Homo sapiens: one gene and its partners. The protein of the gene in region 3 purifies or fractionates together with the protein of the main gene of each other region. This does not show direct contact. Each region holds a gene or a part of one and is shown on either strand. Other genes may lie near its edges.

The links.
Region 1: the proteins of APPL2 (region 3) and SOS1 purify together in Homo sapiens (co-immunoprecipitation; one study listed by IntAct). This does not show direct contact.
Region 2: the proteins of APPL2 (region 3) and ACOT9 fractionate together in Homo sapiens (co-fractionation; one large-scale study listed by BioGRID). This does not show direct contact.

What each region holds. Positions count from the first base shown.
Region 1 is NC_000002.12:39,110,948-39,114,676, reverse strand, and holds part of SOS1 (son of sevenless homolog 1), read left to right. Parts: intron 1-3,729.
Region 2 is NC_000023.11:23,729,701-23,733,429, reverse strand, and holds part of ACOT9 (acyl-coenzyme A thioesterase 9, mitochondrial isoform a precursor), read left to right. Parts: intron 1-212; coding exon 213-258; intron 259-2,443; coding exon 2,444-2,614; intron 2,615-2,865; coding exon 2,866-2,903; intron 2,904-3,729. UniProt on the Homo sapiens protein: Mitochondrial acyl-CoA thioesterase. Catalyzes the hydrolysis of acyl-CoAs into free fatty acids and coenzyme A (CoA), regulating their respective intracellular levels. Regulates both mitochondrial lipid and amino acid metabolism.
Region 3 is NC_000012.12:105,194,675-105,198,174, reverse strand, and holds part of APPL2 (DCC-interacting protein 13-beta), read left to right. Parts: intron 1-221; coding exon 222-410; intron 411-2,547; coding exon 2,548-2,590; intron 2,591-2,648; coding exon of another isoform or gene 2,649-2,673; coding exon 2,674-2,730; intron 2,731-2,825; coding exon 2,826-2,914; intron 2,915-3,500. UniProt on the Homo sapiens protein: Multifunctional adapter protein that binds to various membrane receptors, nuclear factors and signaling proteins to regulate many processes, such as cell proliferation, immune response, endosomal trafficking and cell metabolism.

The DNA of each region.
Region 1 (3,729 bases), on a different chromosome or scaffold from region 3:
GCTGAGATCACACCACTGTACTCCAGCCTGGGTGACAGAGCTAGACTCTGTTTCAAAAAGAAACAAAAACAAATCAGCCGGGCCAGGTGGCTCACGCCTGTAATCCCAGCACTTTGAGAGGCTGAGGCGGGGGATCACCTGAGGTCAGGAGTTCGATACCAGCCTAACCAACATGGAGAAACCCCATCTCTACTAAAAATACAAAATTAGCTGGGCGTGGTGGCGCATGCCTGTAATCCTAGCTACTCAGGAGGCTGAGGCAGGAGAATTGCTTGAACCCAGGAGGCAGAGGTTATGGTGAGCTGAGATTGTGCCATTGCACTCCAGCTTGGGCAACAAGAGTGAAACTCCATCTCAGAAAAAAAGAAAAAAAAAAAAGAAAAGAACAAAAAGAAAAACAAAAAACAAAAAAAATTAGCCAGGCTTGGTGGCACGCACCTGTGGTCCTGGCTACTCAGGAGGCTGAGGTGGGAGGATTGCCTGAGCCTGGGATGTTGAGGCTGAGGTGAGCCATGATCGTGCCATTGCACTGCCGTCTGGGTGACAGGGTAAAACCCTGTCTCAGAAAAAGAAAGAAACAAAAATAGAAAGAAAAGAAAGAGTCATTGATCATACCAGGCTATAGAAAAGTCAAAGGGCCTGAAAAGTGTTAAGTTTGGCAGCTAAGGGGTCATTGGTCACTATGTCAGAGCAGTTTTATTGTGATAGTAGAAGATGGAAGAACATGGGAAAAGTAAGAATAGCAAGGGCTGCTGACCTTTTTGCTCAGATTATTTTTTTCTAGAAGCTTGGAAAGGAAGGGAAAAGAGATAGTGCTGAGGCAAAAAAGAGATTCAAGATTGGGTAAGACATTTTTGCTTCTTGCTTGGAGATGACAAAAACTTACTAAGAGCCTTTGAGGAAGGAGCTAATAGAGAATGCTGGTGAAGATTCAGGAACACAAAGCAATGGGATTTGCCTTGAACTGTTTGGGAGATAAGGTAAGCACTTCACCTGTGTTCTCATTTAATTCTCATAGGATACTATTACGGCTTCCTTTTTACAGGAGAGAAAATCAAGGTTTGGAAAGTTAAATTTGCCCATGTAATTTAGTTACAGAATCTTTATTTTTATTTTTAAAATTATTTTATTTATTTATTTTTGCACCATGGCCTCCCTCCCCCAACTCTAAAATCTGTATTTTTAAACACTATATTGCTGGGCATGGTGGCTCATGCTATTGACGCCAACACTTTGGGAGGCCAAGGCAGGAGGAGTTTGAGAACAGCCTAGGCCACATAGTGAGACCCTGTCTCTACAAGGGAAAAAAAAAAAAAAAAGAAGACAGGTATGGTGGTACATGCCTGTAGTCTCAGCTACTCAGGAGGCTGAAGTGGGAAGATTGCTTGAGCTCAGGTGTTTGAGGCTGCAGTGAGCTATGATTGGGCTACTGCACTCCAGCCTGGGTTACAGAGTGAGACTGTGTCTCTAAATACATTAATGAATAAAACACTAAGTGATGCTACCTCTGGCAGGGGTGATGACATCTTTTCTTATGAGATACAGGAGGGAAAGTGATAAAGATGGGTTTGTAGGTTGGGGAGCAGGGAGTTCATGCTAAATAATCACTTCTATTTTCTTTTCTTTTCTTTTTTTTTTTTGAGACAGAGTCTTGCTCTTGTCGCCCAGGCTGGAGTGCAGTGGTGTGATCTCCGCTCACTGTAGCCTCCACCTCCCAGGTTCCAGCAACTCTGCCTCAGCCTCCCCAGTAGCTGGGATTACAGGCGCACTCCATCACACGCAGCTAATCTTTTGTGTTTTAGTAGAGACAGGGTTTTACCATGTTGCCCAGGCTGGTCTTGAACTCCTGAGCTCAGGCAGTCTGCCCGCCTCGGCCTACCGAAGTGCTGAGATTACAGGCATGAGTCACTGCACCTGGCCAAATCACCTCCATTTTCATGATGAAATGAAAGGCAAATTTTTTTTACAGAGTGAAGAAAAGGAAAGTAGTAAGGACTTTAGAAGGAATAATGAAGTCTGGGAATTGCTGCTGTGGAGTGTAGAGGAGCCAACCAGTGCCTTAGAAAGGAATTGCAAGCCAGGTGCGGTGGCTCATGCCTGCAATTCCAGCACTTGGGAGCCTGAGGTGAGAGGATCACTTGAAACCAGGAGTTCAAGACCAGCCTGGGCAACATGGTGAAACACCGTCTCTACCAAAAAACAAAACAAAACAAAAGCCTGGCATGGTGGTACGCACCTGTAGTCCCAGCCACTTGGGAGACTGAGGTGGGAGGATCCCTTGAGCTCAGGAGGCTGATGCTGCAGTGAGCCATGGGAAAGAAAGAGCAAGAGAGAGAGGGAGAGAGAGGAATTGCTCAGCAGTGCTGAATGTGGAGACCATAAACTCAGAGTAGGGTTGATCTGGTGGTTGTGAGATTTTCCTCCAATAGCGCTTATCTGTTCAGGTAAGCCGGGAGAGAAGACAGTTGGTTGCAGGTAGCGGCAGTAGAGATTAAGAAGATAGGGATATTTCAAGTGATAGAGAGGAAGTAAGGGTATATAAGAGAAATAATGGATTGGAAGAAAAATTAGGGCTCCATGGATTCAAAATCTTGGTGAGTTAGAAGAGAAGGATAGTGGGAGTAGATAGGGGATGTGATTAGAGATGATGACAATTGTTATATTTTGGAGTTTTAAGATTCCAGAGATAGAGGCCAAGGAGGGCAGATCACTTGAGCTCAGGAGTTCAAGACCAGCCTGGCCAACATGGCAAAACCTCACTTCTACCAAAAATACAAAAATTATCTGGATGTGGTGGTGTGTGCCTGTAGTCCCAGCTGTTCGGGAGGCTGAGGTAGGAGAATCGCTTGAAACCTGGAGGTGGAGGTTGCAGTGAGCTAAGGTTGTGTCACTGCACTCCAGCCTGGGCAACAAGAGCGAAACTCCGTCTCAAAAAAAGAAAAAAAAAAAAAAAGGATTCCAGAGATGAAGCAGGTAAGACAATTAGGAGCTCTAAAGTTGATGTATTGGGTTGCATATGGGAATGATGATGAAGTCCACAGAGATTATGGAGTGTACTGTAGCAGAGAGGGAGACTGTATTCTAGGAGTGGCAGGAAGGTCCAGAAGTAACAGCAGTAAGGATGTTTTAAACAAATAATAGTAAAAGTGGCAACTACTTCTCACCTCCTCTGATGTAGTATTTATTACAGCTATAGACAAAATAGGAAGAAACTTTGTACTTCATTTTAGAATTTTGTCTTGTGATAAAGTTTTTACCCTAACATTTTGTCATGAAGATTTTTCAATACACAGAAAAGTCTAAAGAATTGTACAGTAAACACTCGTATACCCATCACCCAGATTTTATAATTAACATTTTATTACAATTTTATTATGTTTGCTCTATGGCATGCCTATCCATCCCTTCATCCTTGAATCCATCTTATTATTATTATTTTTTTTTGAGATGGAGTCTTGCTCTGTCTCCCAGGCTGGAGTGCAGTGGCACAATCTCGTCTCACTGTAACCTCCGCCTCCTGGGTTCAAGTGATTCTCCTGCCTCAGCCTCCCGATTAGCTGGGATTACAGGCATGTGCCACCACACCTGGATAATTTTTGTATTTTTATTACAGACAGGGTTTCGCCATGTTGGCCAGGCTGGTCTCAAACTCTTGACCTCAGGTGATCCACCTGCCTCGCCCTCCCAAAGTGGGATTACAGGCATGAGCCACCATGCCTGGCCCATTTT
Region 2 (3,729 bases), on a different chromosome or scaffold from region 3:
CCTTTAAAGAGACAGTATAGTTCTTTCAGGTTTTTAGGGAGCAGAGGCTTGATCCTGTCCCTGAGCTGTTTGTTGTGGCATTAAATGGAAATCTATGGATCTTTAAATCTTTTGAGTGCATGAATTGCTTTTTGTAGTTCTTGAGCTCATTGCCATAATCCGTTTCTCATATTTCTTTGTTTCATGGAATGACCTCTTTATTTTTGTTTCAGTTCGAGATAAGTTGCGGGAGATAGTAGGAGCATCCACAAACTGGAGGTATGCATCTTTGTTTTCATTCATTCTTTTCATCCCCAAGGTATTATACTACACTGTATTTAGGCTCAGTTGATGGTCTCACAGTGGGGATGGGGAGCCCTATGTTCAGAGATAGGTTGAGAAGTATTTTGCTTGGGGGAGAAGGTCAACATTTCAACATACTCATCAGATGACACCTCATTGTCATGAAAGAAGATGATTTACGTATATTCTGCATTTTCAAAGTGCATTTAGGTGTATATTACTTCACTGATTCTCATAACAAAACTTGTGACGTGCTTACGACATATGTTCCTGTTCCTTTTTTTACACATGAAACTGAAACTCAGAGATTGAATGATTAAATGTCAGGGTTTGGGACTTGAACCCAAGTCGCTAAGTTTCTCTGTTTCATGCAACTTGACTCCTTTATTGCTTCTTGTCAGTTCAAAATTAGTCAGGCCTCCCATATTGTCTTTCTCTTTCTCGCAGTATTTCCTTGTTGTAAAGTAGGATCATATCCCTCTTGGTGTACATAATTTTGAGGCTAAAATGAGATAGAAAAAACACGAGTGATCACTAGATATATAATAATCTATTGTTGGTATAGAAATTATCTAATGACTTATTTTTAAATTCTTTATATGAAAAATTTCACTTTACTAAAAGGTAGAAAGAATGAATACCTGTGTACCCACCACCTGGATTCCATACTTATTAATATTTTGCCAAATTTTCCAATATACACATATTGCCTGAACCATTTCTAAGTAAATTATAGACACCATGACACTTCAGCGTGCATCTTCAGTAAACATTTTATAAAACCAGCCTTCGCTTATCTCCAACAAATAAGACATTCTCTCATGTAATCAAATTGACAGCAATTCCTTGCTAGTATATTACTCATCCATAGTCACATTTCCTCAACTGTTACCATTTTGTGTAATAGATTACTCCTTTTAACAAAAATGTTTTTATAGCTGTTTAAAAAACATCAAGATCCAATAAAGGATTGCATGTTGCATCTGGTGGTTATGACTCTTTAGTCTTCCCTAATCTAGAGTAATGGACAGTCGTCCTTCCCCTATTCTTCCCCCATGAGCTTGACTTTAAGGAGGCCAAGCCATTTGTCTTGAGAATGTTCCACATTCTGGATTTACTGGTGTCATTTAACTCATTCCTCTATCTCCTGTAGTTTTTGTAGGGTAAACATTTCTGGAAATAATACTTTATAAGTTAAGCTTAGAAAGACATCTTAGCTAATGTTCTTATCAACATTGTCGTTCCGTATCCCCTTGTCTTTCTTTTCTCTTTCACCTTAATCTTCTCTTCTTTTTCTTCCCTTTCTGTCTCCTTTTCATGTTATGTTCTTCTTTACCTTTTGTTCTGCCTTCCATACTTCCTTTGGATATAGTCCATTTTCCCTCCTCTGTCTCTCTTTCCTGAAATTGAAGGCAGAGAGAGAGAGAGAACTGGGGCTCAAAGAATCCGAGAACTGTCAGGTGAGAAATGGGAATATAAAGTAGAGTGGCCAAGCCATTCTTTAGCATATATATTTATATGTATATATATATACTATTTTGTCCATCTCTCTAAATTTTTAATTTAATTTCAAATATTCTGGTCTTTGAGTAAACTTTTTGATAAGGGTGAATATATGGCTCATTTGGGTATATCTATATCAGTTTTAAGTTTTCTTTTTTTTTTTTTTTTTTGAGACAGTCTTGCTCTGTTGCCCAGGCTGGAGTGCAGTGGTGTGATCTTGGCTCATTGCAACCTCCGCCTCCCACGTTCAAGCAATTCTCCTGCCTCAGCCTACCAAGTAGCTGGGATTACAGGTGCCCACCACCACACCTGGCTAATTTTTTGTATTTTTAGTAGAGACGGAGTTTTGCCATGTTGGCCAGGCTGGTCTTGAACCCCTGACCTCGTGTGATCCACCCGCCTTGGCCTCCCAAAATGCTGGGATTACAGGCGTGAGACACTGCACCTGGCCTTAAGAATGTTTTTAAGCTTGAGAAATGATACCGGAAATGATCAATTTCACCAAGTGGCAGGTGGGAAGGGAGGGAAGGAAGAGAAGGTGAAAGTAGGCCCAGACCTTCTTTTTCCTCCTTTGATGGTATCTTACTGGCCTGTGTACCACTGGAATTGTGGGCTAGAACTGCTCTTGTTTTATGAATCCTGCATCCTTTCTTCTCAGAGACCATGTGAAGGCAATGGAAGAAAGGAAATTACTTCATAGTTTCTTGGCTAAATCACAGGATGGACTGCCTCCTAGGAGAATGAAGGACAGTTATATTGAAGTTCTCTTGCCTTTGGGCAGTGAGCCTGAATTACGAGAGAAATATTTGACTGTTCAAAACACCGTAAGGTAACACAGTGCTATTTTTATGTATTTGTTTTTATTTCCTTGTTTTATAACAATTTTGAAATATAATTCACACACCATACAATTCGCCTGTTTAAAGTGTACAGTTCCATGGTTTTGATATATTTAGAGAGTTGTGCATCCATCACCACAGTCAATTTTAGAACATTTTCATCACCCTGAAGTGTGTTATTTATTTTTAAAGGGAGACCAACATGATTTGCATTTAATTCACTGTTTGCTTTATTTCACAGATTTGGCAGGATTCTTGAGGATCTTGACAGCTTGGGAGGTACTGGTATTATTTTAGTCTTTCTAATAGATACCTACAGATATACATTGAATTCTGTGACTGGAAAGGGCTCTTTTATTCTTTAACCTGCACAGATGATGATATTCTAAAGTGCACAAAAAAAGAAGGACATCGGCCGGGCGTGGTGGCTCATGCCTGTAATCCCAGCACTTTGGGAGGCTGAGGCGGGCGGATCACTTGAGGTTGGGAGTTTGAGACCAGCCTGACCAACATGGAGAAACCCCGTCTCTACTAAAAATACAAAATTAGCCAGTTGTGTTGGTGGGCGCCGTAATCCCAGCTACTTGGGAGGCTGAGGCAAGAGAATCACTTGAACCTGGGAGGCAGAGGTTGCGGTGAGCTGAGATCGTGCCATTGCACTACAGCCTGGGTAACAAGAGTGAAACTCCATCTCCAAAAAAAAAAAAAAAAAATGGCATCTACTACTTCTGAATTGTCATAATTTTTTTCTTATAAATGTAGATTCCTATTTAATGGAGGTATAGTCTGAATAATCTTTCTTACTAGTAACTTTAAAAAAAGAAAGTCTTAAACTTACAGAAAAGTTGCAAATACAGTATAAAGAATTTTTCTGTGGCCAGGCGCGGTGGCTCACGCCTATAATCCCAGCACTTTGGGAGGCTGAGGCAGGCAGATCACAAGGTCAGGAGATCGAGACCATCCTGGCTAACATGGTGAAACCCCATCTCTACTAAAAATACAAAAAATTAGCCAGGCGTGGTGGCATACGCCTGTAGTCCCAGCTATTCAGGAGGCTGAGGCAGGAGAATCACTTGAACCTGGGAGGTGGAGGTTGCATTGAGCC
Region 3 (3,500 bases):
GGTGTCTCCCTTGGAAGCAGAGCCCATGATCTCCCAGATCATTCCAGCTAAATTGTACCCTTCTGCTGCTCTTTCCACTTGAATGGGCAGTTTTGCTTTAACGATATAAAGAAACACATTATTTCTAAAATGCCACCAGTACCCATAACGAGGTAGCAAGACTTGGAGGTGGCCGCTGGTGCTTTCTGGTACTAATGGGCTTTTTAAAACACAACTCACAGCAAAACAGGGCTGGTCACCACCACCTGGGAGAGGCTTTATTTCTTCACCCAAGGCGGGAATCTCATGTGTCAGCCCAGGGGAGCCGTGGCTGGAGGTTTGATCCAGGACCTGGACAACTGCTCAGTGATGGCCGTGGATTGCGAAGACCGGCGCTACTGCTTCCAGATCACCACGCCCAATGGAAAATCGTATGTTTCACGCGTTTTATTTGGGAGGAGAATGAGTATAGTGGTTCCACCCGTTCCAAGGGCCTCCTAGTTCATTCCTATGTGCCAGCCCTCTGTGGGAGAGGCCCCAATCTGGGTATTGTTGACCTTTCAGGAGGATGATTTTCTGCTCTCTTTAAACAAGCCCGCATGACCCATAAGGGATCCAGCCTGCCTTATCCCATATGGAGATAAGTGAGGGTTTGTCTGTGGCTTTGGAGAAGAGATGACCTACGTGTGTGAGACAGCAACAGAAGTCGTGCTTGTTAGCATAGATTCTCAGAGAGAGAAGGCTGTGGCTACTCCTAGCCTGTTGTAAAGAAGCATTTGTGTTTGGATTGCAGCAGGGGAGAGTAACTATTTTGGTAAGGACGACCTTCCTGAGAAGGCCATTTTTCCAGCAGAAGCAGGAGTTGTGAGAAGTGTACTCCACTGCAGCAGCATCGTCGGCTGCCAGGCTGTTCCCACATGTCCTGTGTACCTGAGGGGCCCCAAAGAGGTGGTACTTTACCAATCCGCAGGCTGTGGCCATTCACAGTAGATCCCATCCCAGTGGGATCCCCTCTCAGAGTGGTGGTTTTTAAACTGCTCCAAGGAGTTCAGGGTCCCATGGAGGGGCTTCAGGGTCCCATGGAGGGGCTTCAGGGTTCACCTGCCTGGGGAGAGGAGTGGCCCTGCCCGTCATCAGAGCCGCTCTTCTCACACTGCATTCTATTAAGATTTGACCTGAACAGCAGGGGTAGGGGTGGGGACGGCATTGGGATGATGTCTCTCCTCCCAGCTTGGCAGAGCAGCTTTAGACCTCATCCTTCCTGCTTTGGTGATGGGAAATGACCTGGGAATGGAGATTCCTGGATGCTCATCATGGTCCTTTGCAGTTACCTCCTCTGGGCCTCACTTTCCTCAGATATAAAATAGGGATAAGATCTATGTTACTCCATCTGCCACAGATGAGAGGAACAAGGGAACTGGCAGATGTGGGGTCTCTTTAAAAAGTTAAAGCCTCGGCTGGGTACAGTGGCTCACGCCTATAATCCCAGCACTTTGGGAGGCCGAGGCAGGTGGATCCCCTGAGGTTGGGAGTTTGAGATCAGCATGACCAACATGGAGAAACCCCGTCTCTACTGGAAATACAAAATTGGCCGGGCACGTTAGTGGTGGCGCATGCCTGTAATCCCAGCTACTCAGGAGGCTGAGGCAGGAGAATCGCTTGAACCTGGGAGGCGGAGGTTGTGGTGAGCCGAGATCACACCATTGCACTCCAGCCTGGTGCAACAAGAGCAAAACTCCATCAAAAAAAAAAAAAAAAAAAAAAAAAAAAGAGTTAACGCCTCCACAAAGGTAGGGCAGTATTACTGTTACCTTATTCCCGGGCCTCCATACGCAGCAGACTTTTCAGTTCTGGGAAAGGAGTGAATGGGCTGCCAAGTCCTTCTTTGGGCATGGTTTGAGGAGTGGCTGGGCTTGGAGTCCTGGTCATCTTGGATCATTAGAGGAGGTCAACAGGTGGATCTCACTGTACAAACACAGATTTGGGCTAGAAGATCCGAGTCCCGCCTTCTCATTTCATAGATGAACATGCTGAGGCCCAGGGAAACGGCCATGTTTGTCCAAGATCACATAGTGAATCAGGGCAGAGCCAGACCTACAAGCCCATTTTCTTTTTTCTTTTTCTTTTTTTTTTTTTTGTTTGAGATAGGGCCTTGCCCTATCACCCAGGCTGGAGTGCAGTGGCACAGTCACCACTCACTGCAGCCTCAGCCTCCTGGGCTCGATCGATCCTCCCACTTCAGCCTCTCTAGTAGCTAGGACTACAGGCACACGCCACCACGCCCAGCTAATTTTTGTATTTTTTGTAGAGAGGGGGTTTCACCATGTTGCCCAGGCTGGTCTCGAACTCCTGGGCTCAAGCCATCCTCCTGCCTCACCTTCCCAAAATGCTGGGACTGCAGGCATGAGCCACTGCACCTGGCCCTGGAACCCCATTTTCTTTCCCTCTCATCATGCTGCCTTCATGGCACTTTTCCTCCCACACCCCAGCTAAGTTCAGTTTATGTAGAGAAATTCCCAGTCACTGAGATCAGGGAAGCACTTAATTACTTAGACACTTTTGTTTCAGGGGAATAATCCTCCAGGCTGAGAGCAGAAAGGAAAATGAAGAGGTAAAAATTTTGTTTGTCATATTTCTTTCCTAACGTGGTGGGTGACTTTGGGATTCAGTGTTCTTTTTTAATGTCCTCTACAGTGGATATGTGCAATAAACAACATCTCCAGACAGATCTACCTGACCGACAACCCTGAGGTAATTATCAGCCACCGGCATCTCAGCCCTTTTCTCAACCTGGAAGGTAAGCGTCCACCTCCTGGGACTGAGTGTGTCTTCCTGTGGATTTTTAGGCAGTCGCGATCAAGTTGAATCAGACCGCTCTGCAAGCAGTGACTCCCATTACAAGTTTTGGAAAAAAACAAGAAAGCTCATGCCCCAGGTAACTAAAGGACAAAGAAAAACTAGCTTTTGTGGAGCCAAATTATTGATTAGGAATACGAAATGAGTTGTTGCTTAATCCACACAAACCAAGGCATGTTTTTCAGCCTGTTTAACAGAAGCAGTAACGATGGCTGGGAAAGGTTAAATACCTGCCTGTGTTCACACCACATTGTGAGTGGTAGAGCCAGGATTCAAGCCTGTCTGATGTCAGCATCCCTGTCCTTTCCACTGGACCATGCTGCTGCAGTCCAAGCAAACAGGACGTGCATGGAGGGTCCTCCTAGTCAGGAGTTCTCCCCACATTTTCTATCAGTGTCAACAAAGTAAGGGAACGAAAGCAAAAATGTTTTTAAAAAATAAGGAAAAAAAAATCGCCTTTTATGTATCCCATGTTAATGTCCACGCCTTATCTGAACATACAGTGATAGTTTTATATGTACATTTATTTTGTATTTGCACATACTTTTTTTTTTTTTAACTATTTCTACATTTTTCAGAATTGTTCCTTTTAGTAACTACACCCTATTCCATCATTTATTTTTTTACTTACTTATTTTTTAATTTTTTCGAGACGGAGTCTCACT